Regions from separate parts of the Homo sapiens genome. Here regions 2 and 3 are each linked to region 1. The links come from fine-mapping of genetic effects on gene expression. A gene starts in region 1. Each other region holds a variant in brackets. All regions are shown on one strand. Distances are between the middles of the regions.

Region 1 (5,657 bases):
TCGAGATCAGCCCGGCCAACATGGTGAAACACCGTCTCTGCTAAAAATGCAAAAATTAGCCGGGCATGGTGGTGCGCACCTGTAATCCCAGCTACTCAGGAGGCTGAGGCAAGAGAATCACCTGAACCTGGGAGGTGGAGGTTGCAATGAGCTGAGGTTGTGCCACTCCACTCCAGCCTGGGTGATAGAGTGAGACTGTCAAAAAAAAAAAAAAAAAAAAAGAGGAAGGAAGAAATGAAGGAAGGAAGGGAGGGAGGGAGGGAAAAGAAAGATGATGCTAAACCGTGGGGAGGCTGTGGGATGTGACATGTCCCAGAGTCCACAGAGATTCCCAGAAACAAATGCTCAAGCCTATAAAAGCCAGGACAAGCTGATTTGCCAGGAGAGGAAGACACAGGCCTGTGAAGAGAAGGGCCCCATGTGGGAGGAGCTCTGTCAATCAGGAGGGAGAGAGAGGGAGCACTGAGGAAGACGGGGAGAGGCTTTCCAGACTTGATCGTTCAGCCAGGCAGATCCAGGATGAAATAGCCGAGGAAGCGGGACAGAGGGAGGGAGGGAAGGTTTCTGAATAGTTGCATCAAAATAACAAAAAGAGAGATGAATAGAATGCAGATTTTAGAATTCACATTGGAAAAGAACATATGGGATGCAGGGAATGTGAGGATGGAGAAGAAAGCTGGGAAGAACAGGAGGGGAGAGAGTGGAGAGGACGGAGGTGTTGGGGAGAATGTGGGAAGGAGGAGCCCAGGAAGGAAGGGGAGGAGGATGGGAGGAGGAGGGCGTGGAGGGTGGAGGAGGGAGAATGGGTGTAAGCATGGAAAGTGTAAAGGGAGAGCGAGAGGGATGCAGGGCAAGCATGTCAACGAAAGACTGATCTCTTTGAGGCTGTTAATTTTAATTATGTAAAAATAACTTGACCTGTTTTTAGTGGAAATGCAGCCTTTCTGGAGACTTGTAAAAGAACAGAAATGGGAATTTCTGTGTCTCTTATAAAGTTCTTATAACTAAAAAAAAAAAAAAAAAAAAAAAAAATGCGGGAGGGGGACACGGGTTATTCAATGGTTGAGAAGTATTTGGTGTGGAATTTGTTTCACGTTCCTTTTTTTTTTTTTTTTTTTTTTTTTTTTTGAGACAGAGTCTTGCTGTGTCCTCTGTTGCCCAGGCTGGAGTGCAGTGGCACGATCTCAGCTTATTACAACACTGCAACCTCTGCGTCCTGGGTTCAAGCGATTCTCCTGCCTCAGCCTCCCAAATAGCTGGGACTACAGGCACACACCACCACACCCGGCTAATTTTTATATCTTTAGCAGAGATGGTGGTTCACCATTTTGGCCAGGCTGGTCTCAAACTCCTGACCTCAAACGATCCGCCATCCTCGGCCTCCCAAAGTGCTTGGATTACAGGCGTGAGCCACAGCGCTTGGCCTGTTTCATGTTTATTTAATGAGTTTTAAAACATGAACAAGGCACTTATGGATGCGTGGGGCAGCATGGGGGTTGGCCTTGTCACCTGGGGCACAGCTGAAGACTTTGCACAGGTTTCTGGTCTATCCTAGGTGAATGATGGTCTGCAGCGGGTGGGGAATGGGGGACTTCCCGTTGTATCCAAATGTTCAGGACAGGGAGTGTAGGAAAGGAGTGAGGGTGTAGGAGGAGATTGCAAATGGGAAGGGAGATGGGGACTCCCTTTCTGGCAGGCGGATAGCCCCAAAAGCCCAGGTTGGGTCTGGGGTCGCCAGCCCCGTAGCAGGTGTTTCTCTCCATGACAGCAGCCAGGAGGTGTCCCCAAGGGAACAAGACATTAGAGTGTGGGAGGCAAGACAGCTCCTCAGTGTTAGCTCTGGGGTGACAGTCCCTGGGGTCTGGCTTCCATGGTGCCGGGGAATGGAGAGCCAACGAGCTGTGGGGAGGGAGGCAGTTTCCACCTTTCTAGTGGCTCACGCACCCCCTCTCTCCCCAGCCCCTGGTGGCGGCGGCGTGTAACACCTTCCCGAGGAAACTCCGCTGCCGACCCTGCCTGAGCGCGGGAGCCTGAGGACCGGGTGGAGGCGGTGGGGACCCAGCCGCGCGCCGGGAGCGCTCCCCGGAATGAGCCGCCCCACCCACCCCAAGGCTGGAGCCGCTGCACCCTGCTGTCCCTCTCCAGGCCTTGGCAATGACGATCCCCCAAAGAGCCCGTCTGCACCCCAGACCCAGGGCCTCAGGCCTCCAGCTCCTGGGATCCGGGAGTCCATCCCGGCCCAGCACCCCCAGCATCCCCGTGTATGGCCCCCCTGCACCTCCTTGTCTCATCCCCGAAGATCCGTCCCCCTGGCCCCTCAGTGTCCATGTCTTGAGCTTAATAAATGTGCATTTGGTTTTTTCCTCTGTTCTGTCTGTGTGTTCTCATCTGTGGGGCACGGTGTGGGTAGGGGTGCAGAACTGAACCTGGGGTAGCTCTCCCCTGCGTGCCCGGAGTCGCCCCCTCTTCATTCTCCTCCCCCAGTGCCCCGAGATGCCCCCCTTCAATCCCTTCTCCTTCCTCAACACCTCCGGATTTGTCCTTTCCCTTCCTCCAGCGACCCCAGAATAGAGCCCTCCCGTTTCTCCCCCTGCTCTCTCAGAGGCGTCCACTCACCCTAGACCTGCCTGCCCCATCCCCGTTCCCACCCTCTCCCACCACTATGCCCTCACCCCTGCCCCCCGTCGCCCTCAGCGATTCCCCCTCCTGCTCCCACCCCGGGCTCTGAAGCCAGGAAACCCAAGAGGAAATGACTGAGCCCGTCTGGGTCCCCGCCCGCTCGCGCTCCCCTGGCCACACCCTCCGCCTGGACGCAGCAGCCACCGCCGCGTCCCTCTCTCCACGAGGCTGCCGGCTTAGGACCCCCAGCTCCGACGTAAGTCCCTCTCGTGCGCCACCTCCATCCGCTGCCCCTCTGCCCACGGGCCGGGCTCAGGTGGGTAGGGGTTTGACCCCTTCCGCTCCTCTCCGCCCCCCATCCACGCCCACATCTCTCTGCCTCCTCTCCTGGGCTACAGTGGGCCGCTCTGCCTCGCTCCCGCCCGCCTGCCTCAGTCTCCCCAGCTCTCTGCCACCCCCCTCGGACCAGTGCCTCTTAGGTCTCTCCAGCGCGCCATCCCTGCAAGGCGGCCCCTGACACCAACTCACTTTTTCCTCTGAGCGCGGGAGGCGTTACTCACTCTTCCTCCTTCCCCTCCTCGCCGACTCCCGGGCTCTGGGCCCCTGGGGGAGGGAAGAGGCCTCCTATCTACTCCTCTGCCCCAGTCCCCTCCTTGCGTCAGTCCCAGTGAGGGATAAGCGCCTGGCGGAAGGCGCAGGGAGGTGTTTCTCTGCTTCAGGAGTGCCCGCCGGCCCTTGCAGCTGCTGGAAGACCCATTTATCTCATGCTTCTTGTTTTCTTTGGGGACCTGCAGGGGAAGGAAGCAGGGTGACGGTTTGGTATCCCCACCTAAGACCCTCCCCTTTCCCCTGAGGCCAGCCGTCAGCCCCTGGCAGGGGGTCTTGGAAGCCAGAGGTTTTTGCTCAGGGCAGGGAAAGGGCTGCAGGATCCCCGGGGGCTGCCGGAGGTCGGTCTCACTGACATCATGGCTGACCCCAGCATCGCCTGGTCCCACAGATGTCGCCCTCTGGTCGCCTGTGTCTTCTCACCATCGTTGGCCTGATTCTCCCCACCAGAGGTAAGACCCATCTCTGGCCTCCACCCTGCCCCAGAGCCCCCAGCCAGGCCAGCCCCACGTGTGCTGCGGGGTGGGTGGTTGGCCCGTGTGAACGTTGTCCTGCCCTGTCACCCTCCCGCTGAGCCGGCACCAGGAAGTGGGGATCCCTATGGCGGGGCGACGTTACACCCTCTTTGGACACCTCAGACCCGGGTGGCTGCTTCCAGTGAGTCTGGCCAGGGCCTGTCCTGCTGAGCATCCTCCAATTTCACCTCCAAGAAGAACTCACTGAGTTTCATTTGGCGGGGAGATTGGTGTCGGTTTTCTACTCAGCAGCCAGGAAACCTAGGCTCCCAGAGTCCCCAGGCATTACACAGTTAGGCAAAGCTGTTGAGCTGGGGTTAGTCCAAAGAGTTGGCAACATCTCAGCCTTGCCTGGAAAGTGTCTCCTGAAAGATGGGAACCACAGGGGGGTATTGATCGTTCTTTCTGTGTGGCAGGTGTGGTGTGTGTTAGGTCAGTTAGGCTTTGCCTCTGACAGTCAGTCACACCTGTTGTCTTGCCCATTTTACTGATGAGGAAACTGAGGCTCAGCGAAGGGAAGTGCCCTGTGTCAGAGGAGAATGGGTGGAGGAGCTGAGAAAACAACTGTCCTGCCTGCCCCCAGAACCCAGGGTGCATGCCCCACTGAAGGCGCCCTCATTTCTCCTTCATAAAATGATTTTCATATACTCGTTCAGTCATTTGACAAATATTTATTGAGCACCTACTATGTGCTAGATATTCTGTGCACTGGGGAAACAGCACTGAATAAAACAAGAGGTCACACTCTAGTGGAGAGAGACAAGTTAGTAAATTATATCGTGTGCTAGGAGGTGATACGTGCTTGCAGAAAAGTAGAGGTAATGAGGATTGTTTAAACTGGGTGGTCAGGGAGGGCCTCACTGAGGAGGTGACATTTGGACCAACAAACACTTGGAGGAAATGAGGGAATGAGCTTTGCAGGTGTCTGGGGGCTGAGTGTTGTCTGGTGTGTTTTAAGAATAGCAGGCAGGTGGGGTGGCTGGGTTGGGATGAGAAGGGGCAGAGTGGGATGACGAGAGGACAGAGAAGTGATGGGACCAGATGGAGGAGGACTTACGGGCCACGTGAGGGCTTTGCTTTTATGTGGAGTGAAGTGCAGCCAGGGCAGGGCTCTGAACCAGGCGGGCCCCGACCTGACTCAGGTGGTCCCAGGCTCCCTCTGGCTGCAGGTTGGAACAGACTGTGGGGGCGGAGACAGGAGCAGGGAGCCCAAGAAGGAGGCTGCTGGGATGTCCAGGCTGGAGGGTACAGAGGCAGGACCAGGATGGGGGCAGTGGAGTTATCCAGCACTGACCACATGGTAAGCCGTGTGGGAGACCCTTTCCCTGCTCTGTGTCATTTCACCCTATCTACAGCCCTGTGAAGTAGATTCAGTTATTATCCCTGCTTTGCAGATGAAGCAACTGAGGCTCAGAGAAAGGACTTCACTTGTTCCAGGTCACACAGCAAGAAAGTTGTTGGGGGCAGGATTTGAAACCAGGGCCCAGGCTCACCCTAGCACCTGGGCTCACTAGACTAAACTGACTTTCCCATCCCACAGGGATGGGCGGGGAGGGGGACTAGAAGAAGGGTTCCCAGGCATTGGCATAGCTGAAAACACTTTCAGAATTATGGATTGATGCAGCCAAAGCTGAGTGATTCCACCAGCAGACAGGACCCCTAAGGTTTCACCAGGGAGGCGAGGGCGGGGGTGGTGAGAGGAGGGGGACCAGGCTCCCTCCTGACTTCTCATCCTTGATTCCCCAGGACAGACGTTGAAAGATACCACGTCCAGTTCTTCAGCAGACTCAACTATCATGGACATTCAGGTCCCGACACGAGCCCCAGGTGAGGAAAGGGACACATCTATCAAGATCCTGTCATTGCAAATAACAACAGCAACAAAAATCCCAAACTTGGACCAAACAAGGGAATTTA
Region 2 (5,657 bases), 23 kb after region 1:
GAATCTCAAAAGCATTGTCTTGAGTGAAAGAAACCACACACGAAAGAGCACAGACTGTGTAATTCCATTTATATGAAGTTCTGAAATATGCAAAACTGATTAACAGTGATAAAAATCAGAAGAGTAGTGGCCTCTACTATGTCAGCAGGAGGTGGGGAGAGACTGCAAAGGGGCATGAAAGAACTTTCTGGAAGGATTGAAATGTTCTGTGCCCTGATGACAGTGGTGCAGATTACATGTCCATATATTGATCAGAATGATCAAATTGTACGTTTAAGTTTTGAGGGCTCGGTGCCGTGGCTCATGCCTGTAATCACAACACTTTGAGAGGCCAAGGCAGGTGGATCACTTGAGGTTGGAGTTCGAGACCAGCCTGGCCAACATGGTGAAACCCCGTCTCTACTAAAAATACAAAAATTAGCCAGGCATGGTGGTGCATGCCTGTAATCCCAGCTCCTCAGAAGGCTGAAGCAGGAGAGTCGCCTGAACGTGGGAGGCGGAGGTTGCAGTGAGCCGAGATCGCGCCACTGGACTCCAGCCTGGGTGATGGAGCAAGACCCTGTCTCAAAGGAAAAAAAAAAAAAAGATTTGTACACTTTACTATGTGTAAGTGATATTTGGATGTGTGACCCCTCCAAATCTCATGTTGAAATGTGATCCCCGATGATGGAGGGGGGCCTGGTGGGAGGTGATTGGGTCATGGGGGTTGATCCCTCATGAATGGCTTGGTGTCCTCCCCATGGTCATGCGTGAGTTCTTGCCCTCTTAGCTCACGTGACAGCTGGTTGCTTAAAGAGCCTGGCACCTCCCCCTCTCTCTGTCTTACTCCTGCTCTTGCCATGGGACACGCCTGCTATCCCTTCACTTCCTGCTATGAGTAAAAGATTCCTGAGGTCTCTTCACCAAAAGCCAAGCAGATGCTGGTGCTGTGCTTGTACAGCCTGAAGAACCATGAGCCAAAGAATTCTCTTTTCCTTATAAATTACTGTCTCAAGTATTCTTTTATGGCAATGCAAAATGAACTAACACAGTAAATTATAACTCAATACAAAACAAGAACATTGAAAACAAATAGGCAGTTCTGTCCTGGGTGGTGATGATTTTCTGATCCCTGGATCTCAGACAGAGCAGCCAGATGCTGAAGCTGACGTGTACAATGGGGGCTCCTGATTAGGGTGGAGGGAGAAGCTCCTTGGGCAAGTCAGTCTGCTCATGTTGTGGAATCATTTGCAGTCTTCACTTAGAGCGCACTCCACCAGCCTTTCCAAAGAGCTTGTCAACCTCTAATTCCTTATGCCAAGCCAGACCAATTTTGCTTAAAATTGACAGTCACAAATAATCTCAAAATCTCGTGGCTTACAACAAAGGTTTGTTTCTCGCTCTCACTACATGTCCCTCACGGTTCAGCTAGGAGCTAGGATGGGACCCAAGATGATGGGGAAGCCTGGGCTGGGCGCAGTGGCTCACACCTGTAATCCCAGCACTTTGGGAGGCCGAGGCAGGCAGATCGCTTGATCTCAGGAGTTTGAGACCAACCTGGCCAATATGGTGAAACCTTGTCTCTACAAAAAATACAAAAATTAGGCCAAGTGCAGTGGCTTACACCTGTAATCCCAGCACTTTGGGAGGCCGAGGCAGGCGGATTACCTGAGGTCAGGAGTTTGAGACCAGCCTGGCCAACATGTCAAAACCCCATCTCTACTAAAAATAGAAAGATTAGCCAGGCATGGCGGTGCATGCCTGTAATCCCAGCTACTCAGGAGGCTGAGGCAGGAGAATCACTTGAACCTGAGAGGCGGAGGTTGCAGTGAGCCGAGATCAAGCCACTGCACTCCAGCCTGGGTGACAGAGTGACAGAGTGACACTCCGTCTCAAAAACTAAATAAAAATAAGCTGGGCATGGTGGCTTGCGCCTGTGGTCCCAGCTATTTGAGGGGTGAGGTGGGGGGATCGCTTGAGCCCAAGAGATGGAGGTTGCAGTGAGCTGAGATCACGCCACTGCACTCCAGAGTGAGACCCTGTCTAAAAGAAAAGAAAATAAAAGAAAAGAAATGTTTCTGGTTATCATAGCAGGCAGAAGGCAGAACAAGGAACAAGGTGAGACACACACTGGCTCTTATAGCCTCTGTCAGGAAGGGACACACCTCATTTCTGCTCACATTGTCATTATCGAAAGCAAATCACACGGGCACATTTGAGTTCAACAGCACAGAACATTACAATCTTCTTATAGGAAGGTATATTAATCCGTTTTCATGCTGCTGATAAAGACATATCTGAGATTGGGAAACTTACAAAAGAAAGAACTTTATTGGATTTACAGTTCCACGTGGCTGGGGAGGCCTCAATCATGGCAGAAGGTGAAAGGCACGTCTCACATGGTGGCAGACAAGAGAAGAGAGCTTGTGCAGGGAAACTCCCCTTTTTAAAACCCTCAGACCTCATGAGACTCATTCACCATCACAAGACCAGCAAGAGAAAGACCTGCCCTTATGATTCAACCACCTTCCACTGGGCCCCTCCCACAATATGTGAAAATTCAAGATAAGATTTGGGTGGGGGCACAGCCAAACCACATCAGAAGGGAACTGGGTATTGATGGGCAGTAATATTGTTTACTGCAAAGGACATTTATTATCTCACATAGCAAGAGTTCTAGAGGCAGAAACTGTATTCAGCTTCAGGAGACAGCCAGAAACAACGACTTAAACAGGTTATTTATTCCTCTCTCACATAGCAGAACTCTGAAGTACATAGTGCAAGGCTGGGAAAGAGGATCCCTAATATCATAAGGGACCAGACTTGCTGCTCTGCCACCCTAAGCATGTGGCCTGAAGCCTCAAGATCACAAAATAGCTGCAGAAGCCTCAGCCATCATGCCACATTCCAGGAAAAAAATCAAGAAGGGGAAAAAAAAGTGAGAAAGGAAAGGCACCACTAGGTGATTCAGCTCCTTTTAAAG[G/A]GACTTCCCAAGACTCCCTCCCAAAGATTTCTACTTCCTTCGGATTGCTACCTCTAATTGCAAAGGACACAGAAATGTGGTCTTTTAGCTGAGTCCGTGACACCCCAAATACCATCAAGGAAAATAATTGCCCTCAGGAATTTGTTGATTAGGATGCTGAGAAGGATGGGGAGCTGCCACCAAGTCAGGAGATGGAGCCTCAAGTCATTTTTACTCCAATGTAAAAGGAAAAGATAACTGTTAAGACTGGGGGTTGGCCAGGCACAGTGGCTCACACCTGTAATCTCAACACTTTGGGAGGCCAAGGCAGGTGGATCACCTGAGGTCAGGAGTTCGAAACCAGCCTGGCCAACAGGGTGAAATCCCATCTCTACTAAAAATACAAAAATTAGCCAGGCATGTGACACATGCCTGTAATCCCAGCTACTCGGGAGGCTGAGGCAAGAGAATCACTTGAACCTAGGAGGCGGAGGTTGCAGTGAGCCAAGATTGCACCATTGCACTCCAGCCTGGGTGACAAGAGTGAGACGTCATCTCAAAAAAAAAAAAAAAACTGGTCGTTTTTGAAACTTCCAGAGGACAGCAGCACTGATTCTCAGACTTGATAGAGACTTCCAGACATCACTTCAACAGCGCCTCCAATGCTCTCCAATGCTACCCAATCCCTTTCTGGCAAAAGACATCTTTTTCTGTGGCATCATGGTCTGAAGTGAAGCCTCCTCCTCCTCCACCCTTACATCAGGGGAGATATCTTGCCAGGAGCTAATGGAGTGGATGTTGTAATTCAGCTAGCCTCCTGAGTACAATTCTGTCAAGGTTCTTGTTTTGAAATTGAGGCCAGATCACATTAACTGGAAGGAATCTGCCTTTTCTCATCTGACACTAGATTGTGCTTTTCTTGGAGGTGTTGAGGATGACCTCCAATGATTGCTTCGGTAAAGTCTGTTGGCTTCTCAAGAAGTTATTGAGTCAAGGACTCCAGCTGCTGATGGTGGGAGGTTAAACAGGGTTTGAAACATCGCCTGAGGTGGCTTTGTAATGTATCACCTTGGCCAGGTTAAACTACACTTCCCAGAATCTTTTTCCCTAGATGCCTGTGTTTTCTGGTTAGGGTGAACCACAAGAGACATTCTTGTCAGGGATCTGCTGGGTAGAGGTGAAGCCACGGACATTTCGCAGCTTATACCAGTTGTCACTTATCAGACAGCTCATCTCATTGGCATAAGGCAGCAACCAGGGCTGCAACTGTTTCACCTTCCGCTGGATCCTCCTTCAGCTTCCCCAGTTGTTGGGCCAGACATGTGTGCTCAGCCCCGTGATGAAGGACCATGACTCTAGCAAGACACCCACAGCACCAAGGTCATAGACAACAAGAATTAGCATGGGGCTGGGTGCAGTGGCTCATGCCTGTAATTCCAGCACTCTGGGAGGCCGAGGCGGGTGGATCACTTGAGGTCAGGAGTTCGAGACCAGCCTGGTCAACATGGTGAAACTCCATCTTTACTAAAAATACAAAAATTACCCAGGCGTGATGTTGCATGCCTGCAATCCCAGCTACTCGGGAGGCTGAGGCAAGAGAATCTCTTCAACCTGGGAAGCAGAGGTTGCAGTGAGCAGAGATCACACCACTGCACTCCAGCCTGGTCGACCGAGTGAAACTCTGTCTCAAAAAGAAAAACAAAAAGAAAGAAAGAAAGAAAAAAAAGAAGAGAAAAGAAAAAGAAAAAGAATTAACATAGGATTCAGTCCATCCTTGTGGACTCCAGCTTGTGCTTGTGGGTTCTAACTTGTTCCGTGCTCTCCCCAATCTTACCTCAATCTTCCCTTCCTGACTTCCTGCACCTGTGGGTTTCAAGTTCCAGCATCAAGACAACAGCCCTACAAAGAGAGCTTCACTAGCAACTACAATTGTTGAAGGTCAAATTCGTGTAGCAAACTGTGTGTGTGTACGCCCACATATGTATTAAAGGTTCAGCTTTGCTGATACAGAATTTGGTACTAAGAGTGGTTCCAGAAGGCCAGAATCTTAACAATGAGATCTGGTTTTTCTTTCTCTTTTTTTTTTTTTTTTGAGATGGAGTCTCACTCTGTCACCCAGGCTGGAGTGTGGTGGCGTGATCTTGGTTTACTGCAAGTTCCGCCTCCCGGGTTCACGCCATTCTCCTGCCTCAGCCTCCCCAGCAGCTGGGACTACAGGCGCCTGCCACAACGCCCAGCTAATTTTATTGTACTTTTAGTAGAGACGGGGTTTCACCGTATTAGCCAAGATGGTCTCAATCTCTTGACCTTGTGATCCACCTGCCTCGGCCTTCCAAAGTGCTGGGATTACAGGCGTGAGCCACCGCGCCCGGCCGAGATCTGGTTTTTCTAGAATTGGTTCTCTAATTAAATTGAAAGCCATTAATGACCTTGTTTTCAGTAATGAAGGGTACACTGATAGGTCATAGCATGGAGTGGCAAGGCAGTCACTCAGACCATCACCAGTAGCTTCCTATATTAGGTTTCTATAGAAGGAAAGGCTCTGGGTGACTGAGTATTTGCTTCCACAGAACAGTTTAGTGAAAATAAGAAGTGTAATGGGGTTGGCTCATTGCTGCTGACTGTGCTGGAAAACTTGGAGCTGAGGTGGAATGATGGCACTCAGAACTTTACCTTCCCAGCTCTGGTTCTGTATAAGGGACTTGAAAGCTTCTGT
Region 3 (5,657 bases), 55 kb after region 1:
CTCAAAAGAAAAAGAAAAGTACTGTAGGAGGCCAGGTGTGGTGGCTCACACCTGTAATCCCAGCATTTTGGGAGGCCAAGGCAGGAGGATCGCTTGAGCCCAGGAGTTCGAGACCAGCCTGAGCAACATAGCAAGACCCCATCTCCAAAAAAATTTTAAAAAGATACACAAAATTTGCCAGGCGTGGCGGTGTGTGCCTGTATTCCTGGCTACTAAGGAAGCTGAGGAGGGAGAATCACCTGAACCTGGGAGATCAAGGCTGCAGTGAGTCATAATCACACCACTGCACTCCAGCCTGTGTGACACAGCGAGATCCTATCTCAAAAAAAGAAAAAAATAATAATGTAAGAGAAATAAACTTTTTCTTTTCCTCGCAGAGAGAATGTGGCAGTGTGAGGAGGCATTTGCTGGCTTAAGCTGGGCTCTCAAACTCTTAGTCTAGAGCAGAGTTCTAACAGCATCACGTGTTTTTGCTTTCTCTTTCATCCACGTTGAAGAAGAGGGGGTAGTAAAAATATTCCTCTGGTTTAACAAAAAATTCACAAATATTTATCCTTTTCAGAATCTACATGCAATTTAAGTATTAGTCCCAGAATCACAGATGCTGGAATGTTAAAGTTTCTTTGACAAGACATACTGATGATCTCTGAAGTCCCTGCGGCCTGCAAAGAATATTTGCAAACAGAGTTTTATGATGCTGAGGATGATTCTGAAGCCACAGAGAAAGACATCATTTTTCTTCTTTTCTTTCTGCAATTTCTTTCATTAGCACTTCGGAGCACCTATAGTCGCCATGAGTTGAAATCTCATGAGTTAGTAGTAAGAGCAGAATCAGAGAGGCTAAACACTGAAAATACAGAAAGGAAATGGGTAGAGTAGGATTTTAGCAAGAGGAAGTATACGGTTGTGATGCTTTGCACCTATAGGAAATGATGGCTGGGGCTGTGGCAGCCACGTTACCACCGTGAGGGATGACATTGCCCACATGCTGAGGAGCCTGAGTCTATAAGAACATCATTCAACTGATGCATTGACCCCTGGAGAACCTCCCCGCCTTTGGGGGACCAGCAGTTCTGTAAAATAATACGTGTCCTTATTGCTTTTTTTTTTTGAGATGGAGTCTGGCTCTGTCCCCCAGGCGGGAGTGCAGTGGCGCGATCTCGGCTCACTGCAAGATCCACCTCCTGAGTTCACGCCATTCTCCTGCCTCAGCCTCCCGAGTAGCTGGGACTACAGGCGACCGCCACCATGCCTAGTTATTTTTTTGGATTTTTAGTAGAGACGGGGTTTCACCGTGTTAGCCAGGATGATCTCAATCTCCTGAGTTCACGCCATTCTCCTGCCTCAGCCTCCCGAGTAGCTGGGACTACAGGCGACCGCCACCATGCCTAGTTATTTTTTTGGATTTTTAGTAGAGACGGGGTTTCACCGTGTTAGCCAGGATGATCTCAATCTCCTGACCTCGCGATCTGCCTGCCTCGGCCTCCCAAAGTGCTGGGATTACAGGCACGAGCCACTGTGCCTGGCATCCTTATTGTTTTAAGATGTTTGGAATTTATTCTTCTCTTACTTGCAGCCAACAGCATCCTACATGAGGCAGCCAGGGTAAGTGGTCCACATACAATGGGTGAACAAGTGCTTATCCAGGAATTGAAAGAGCCTGGCTCATTCAGTGCTAGGACCAGAGCCCTCAGTGGACATTGTCCCACCTTTCAGCACTGAGGATGCCTCCTCCCCTCCAAGCCAGTCATTGCTGTATGTGATCATGTTAATTAGGTATCCATATTCCACAGGAGGGAGCAACGAGGTTTTCTTTTTTTTTTTTAAGATGGAGTCTTGCTCTGTTGCCCAGGCTGGAGTAAAGTGGTGCCATCTCAGCTCACTACAACCTCCTGGTTCCAGCAATTCTCCTGCCTCAGCCTCCCAGGTAGTTAAGATTACAGGTGCCCACTACCACATTGGGCTAAGTTTTGTATTTTTAGTAGAGATGGGGTTTCACTATGTTGGCCAGGCTGGTCTCAAACTCCTGACCTCAAGCTATCCGCCCACCTTGGCCTCCCAAAGTGCTGGGATTACAGGCATGAGCCACCACGCCTGGCCGCAATGAGGTATTTTTTTGTTTTTTTGTTTTTGTTTTTGTTTTTTTTCAATTCTAGCCGCCAATCACAAAATTTAACTAAGGTCCCTCCCAGCACACACCTGTCATCCATCCTGAAAATTTAAAGTAAAGGTATAAAAATATCAAAACCATGATTGCCTTTGGGGATGGAGTGGAGGTGGGGATTATCTGGGAAGGGGCATAAGGGGATTTTGCAGGGGTCACGGAGATGTTCTTTATCTTAACAGGGGCTTGTAGTCTAAAGCAGAAGCGTATACTTATTACATAAGTGCATTCATTGGTCAAAACTCAGCAAATGGAGATGGGAACAGTGGCTCATGCCTGTAATCTCAGCTACTGAGGAGGCTGATGCATGGGGATCACTTGAGGCCAGGAGGTCAAGACCAGTCTGTGCAACACAGAAAGACCTTATCTCTTTTAAAAAAAAAATTGTTTTAATTCCCCAGGCATAGAACTCACCCTGTGGA[G/GA]AAAAAAAAAAAAAATTAGCCAGGCGTGGTGGCATATTTCTGTAGTACCAGTTACTTTCAAGGCTGAGGCAGAAGGATCGCTTGAGCCCAGGAGGTCAAGGCTGCAGTAAACTATGATCACACCACTGCACTCCAGTCTGGGGTACAGAGTGGGAGCGCATCTCTAAATAATAATGACAATACTAAGAAATTCAGCAAATGGATGTTTCATATGTGTGCATTTCATTGCATGCAAATTTATAAAATCTCAAAGATAACTGCAAACATTGAACTCCAGTTGGTGATATGAATCCTGAAATGTTTAAGGGTAAAGAGTACTGATGTCTGCTTTAAAATTCTTTAACCTTCTTTAAAAATACATTTTTAAAAAATCAGATGACTTGATAGAGGAATGGACTGATAGATATGTAATAAAGTAAATACAGAAAAATGTTAACAATTGTAGAATCTAGATGATGGGGCCAGGTGCGGTGGCTCACGCCTGTAATCCCAGCACTTTGGGAAGCTGAGGCAGGTGGATCGATCACCTGAGGTCAGGAGTTTGAGACCAGCCTGGCCAACATGGTGAAACACCATCTCTACCAAAAATACAAAAATTAGCCAGGCGTGACAGCGCATGCTTGTAATCCCAGCTACTCAGGAGAATCACTTGAACCCGGGAGGCAGAGGTTGCAGTGATCTGAGATCATATCACTGCACTCCAGCCCGGGTGACAGAGTGAGACTCCGTGTCAAAAAATAAAATAAAATAAAATAAAATAAAATAAAAGTGATGATGATCATAGTTATGAACAACAGTGAGAGTTCACACACTGCCTGTACTGTGGGCAAAGCCCGTTCTCAGTGCTTCGTGTGAATGAATTTGTTCACTCCTCACTACAACCTTCTGAGATAGATACTGTTATTCTCATTCACAGATGTGGACCCTGAGACCAGGGAGGTTGCGTGGCATCATTACATCAGAAGGGGAGTGGTCTGAATCCACTCCTCCCCTTCCAGGGCAGGAAGTCAACAGAGAAGGGCTCTGTGGTAACGTTGACAATCACAAATCAGTGGCATAAACATCTCCTTAAGACATGCAGAGGCAGCTGGGCGTGGTGGCCCACGCCTGTAATCCCACCATGTGGGAGGCCAACGTGGGAGGATCACTTGAGGTTAGGAGTTTGAGACCAGCCTGGGCCACATAGTGAGACCCTGTCTCTACAAAAAAAAAAAAATTAAAAATTAGGTGGGCACGGTGGCTCATGCCTGTAATCCCAGCACTTTGGGAGGCTGAGGCAGGTGGATCACCTGAGGTCAGGAGTTCGAGACCAGCCTGGACAACGTGGTGAAATCCTGTCTTTATTAAAAATACAAAAATTAACCAGGCATGGTGGCAGGTACCTGTAATCCCAGTTACTCAGGAAGCTGAGACAGGAGAATCGCTTGAACCATGGGAGACAGAGATTGCAGTGAGCCGAGATCGCGCCAGTGCACTCCAGCCTGGACGACAAGAGCGAAACTCTGTCTCAATGAAAAAATAAATAAATAAATAAAATTAAAAATTAGCAGGGCATGGTGGTGCATGCCTGTAGTCCTAGCTACTCAGGAGGCTGAGGTGGGAGGATTGTTTGAGCCCAGGAGTTCAAGGCTTCAGTGAGCTATGATTGCACAACTGCACTCCAGCCTGGGCAACAGAACAAGACCCTGTCTCTGAAAAAAAAAAAAAAATGTGGAAATTGTGAGAGACACATGACAACAGAAATGTGACTACTGCTTGCCTCTGGAGGAAGGAAGAGGTGGTGGAGGAGAGATAGGTGGCTGGACACTGTGGCAACACCAGCATACCAGGGGCTGGGAGTGGGGGGCAGTCAGGACATGAGGCCAGAAGCTGTGAATCTTGGAATCTGCAGAGTGCCCCTTATGAGACCCCAAGCATTCATGTAAGCGTCCATGCCCCCACTGATGATATCTGGGCAGAGAGGCAATAAAATCAGAGTTGTTGATCAAGATTTGGAGGCTGCGGTTGGAGGCCGGACATCCTGCCTGCAGGGCAGGCTTCAGCTTGGAAGCTTGCGGCCCAGAACAGTCCCCGTGGGCACACCCAGGCAGAGGGTTTTGCTAGGTGTCTGACCCAGCTTCCAAAGCCAGGGTCTAATAACAACAGCGCCACCAACAACAGGAAACATTTGTGACGCACATGCTGCCAAAGCACTGTTCTAAGCACTCCTTACAGTTTAATCCTCCCAACAATAAGAATGAGGTAGGTACCAGTGCTAACCCCATTTTACATAGGGGGAAACTTAGGCACAGAGAGGAGACCCCATGAAAGGCAATGGGGACACCTCCAGGAACCTCCCACCAAAAAAGATCACTGCAGAGTAAGGACAAATCGAACATCAGATTTCCTCAAGGGTGGGCACTTTCTCGATGCATTTCTGGTGCCCTCTTTTGGATTTCAGCCTCAGTGGCCACAACACCACGGGTGTCAGTGACAGGAGCAAACCAAATGCACTGGGGACTCAGCTGGGAGGAGCCGCCCTGGCATTCCCACCATGTCCGTGAAATGGGGGGAATCGTGGTATGTACTTGAGAATCAACAGAGGCTGGGCGAGGAAGACTTGGGATACTTGTGAGCCCATTCTAACATCAGCAATTGCTAATATCATGTTTATTGCCTTGAATAAAAGAGATGAAGAAATAAAGGAAAAAGAGGAAAGGAAGGGGGAAAGGAATGAAGAAAGGAGAGACAAGAAATAAAGCATTTTAGGCCGGGCCTGGGGGCTCACACCTGTAATCTCAGTACTTGGGAAGACTGAGGTGGGCATATCACTTGAGGTCAGGAGTTCAAGACCAGCCTGGCCAACATGGCAAAACCCCATCTCTACTAAAAATACAAAAACTAGGCCGGGCACGGTGTCTCACGCCTATAATCCCAGCACTTTGGGAGGCCGAGGCAGGCGGATCACGAGGTCAGGAGATCGAGACCATCCTGGCTAACACAATGAAACTCCACCTCTACTGAAAAAAAAATACGAAAAAAGTTAGCCGGGCGTGGTGGCATGCACCTGTAGTCCCAGCTCCTCGGGAGGC

The links. PIP is the estimated chance that this variant, and not a neighbour inherited with it, causes the effect.
Region 2: its variant is fine-mapped to the expression of FXYD5 in B cells (Schmiedel 2018, PIP 0.95).
Region 3: its variant is fine-mapped to the expression of FXYD5 in platelets (CEDAR, PIP 0.95).

Annotation. Positions count from the first base shown.
Region 1 is chr19:35,151,935-35,157,591 of GRCh38, forward strand. It overlaps FXYD5 (FXYD domain containing ion transport regulator 5), which reads left to right and starts at 2,801. Exons shown (of 9, transcript NM_014164.6): 1 at 2,801-2,875; 2 at 3,617-3,677; 3 at 5,487-5,567. The coding sequence starts at 3,617. It overlaps FXYD7 (FXYD domain containing ion transport regulator 7), which reads left to right. Exons shown (of 6, transcript NM_022006.2): 6 at 1,960-2,368. The coding sequence ends at 1,982. RefSeq lists enhancers at 268-819, 1,769-2,633, 3,572-3,741.
Region 2 is chr19:35,175,206-35,180,862 of GRCh38, forward strand. No RefSeq gene overlaps it. Among named protein-coding and RNA genes, the nearest start is that of FXYD5, 23 kb to the left of the region's middle. RefSeq lists a silencer at 646-802. The variant G/A (reference allele first, on the strand shown) is at 2,963.
Region 3 is chr19:35,207,371-35,213,027 of GRCh38, forward strand. The region is part of intron 2 of LOC105372379 (a long non-coding RNA gene); the gene reads left to right. Among named protein-coding and RNA genes, the nearest start is that of FAM187B, 19 kb to the right of the region's middle. RefSeq lists an enhancer at 4,307-5,118. The variant G/GA (reference allele first, on the strand shown) is at 2,587.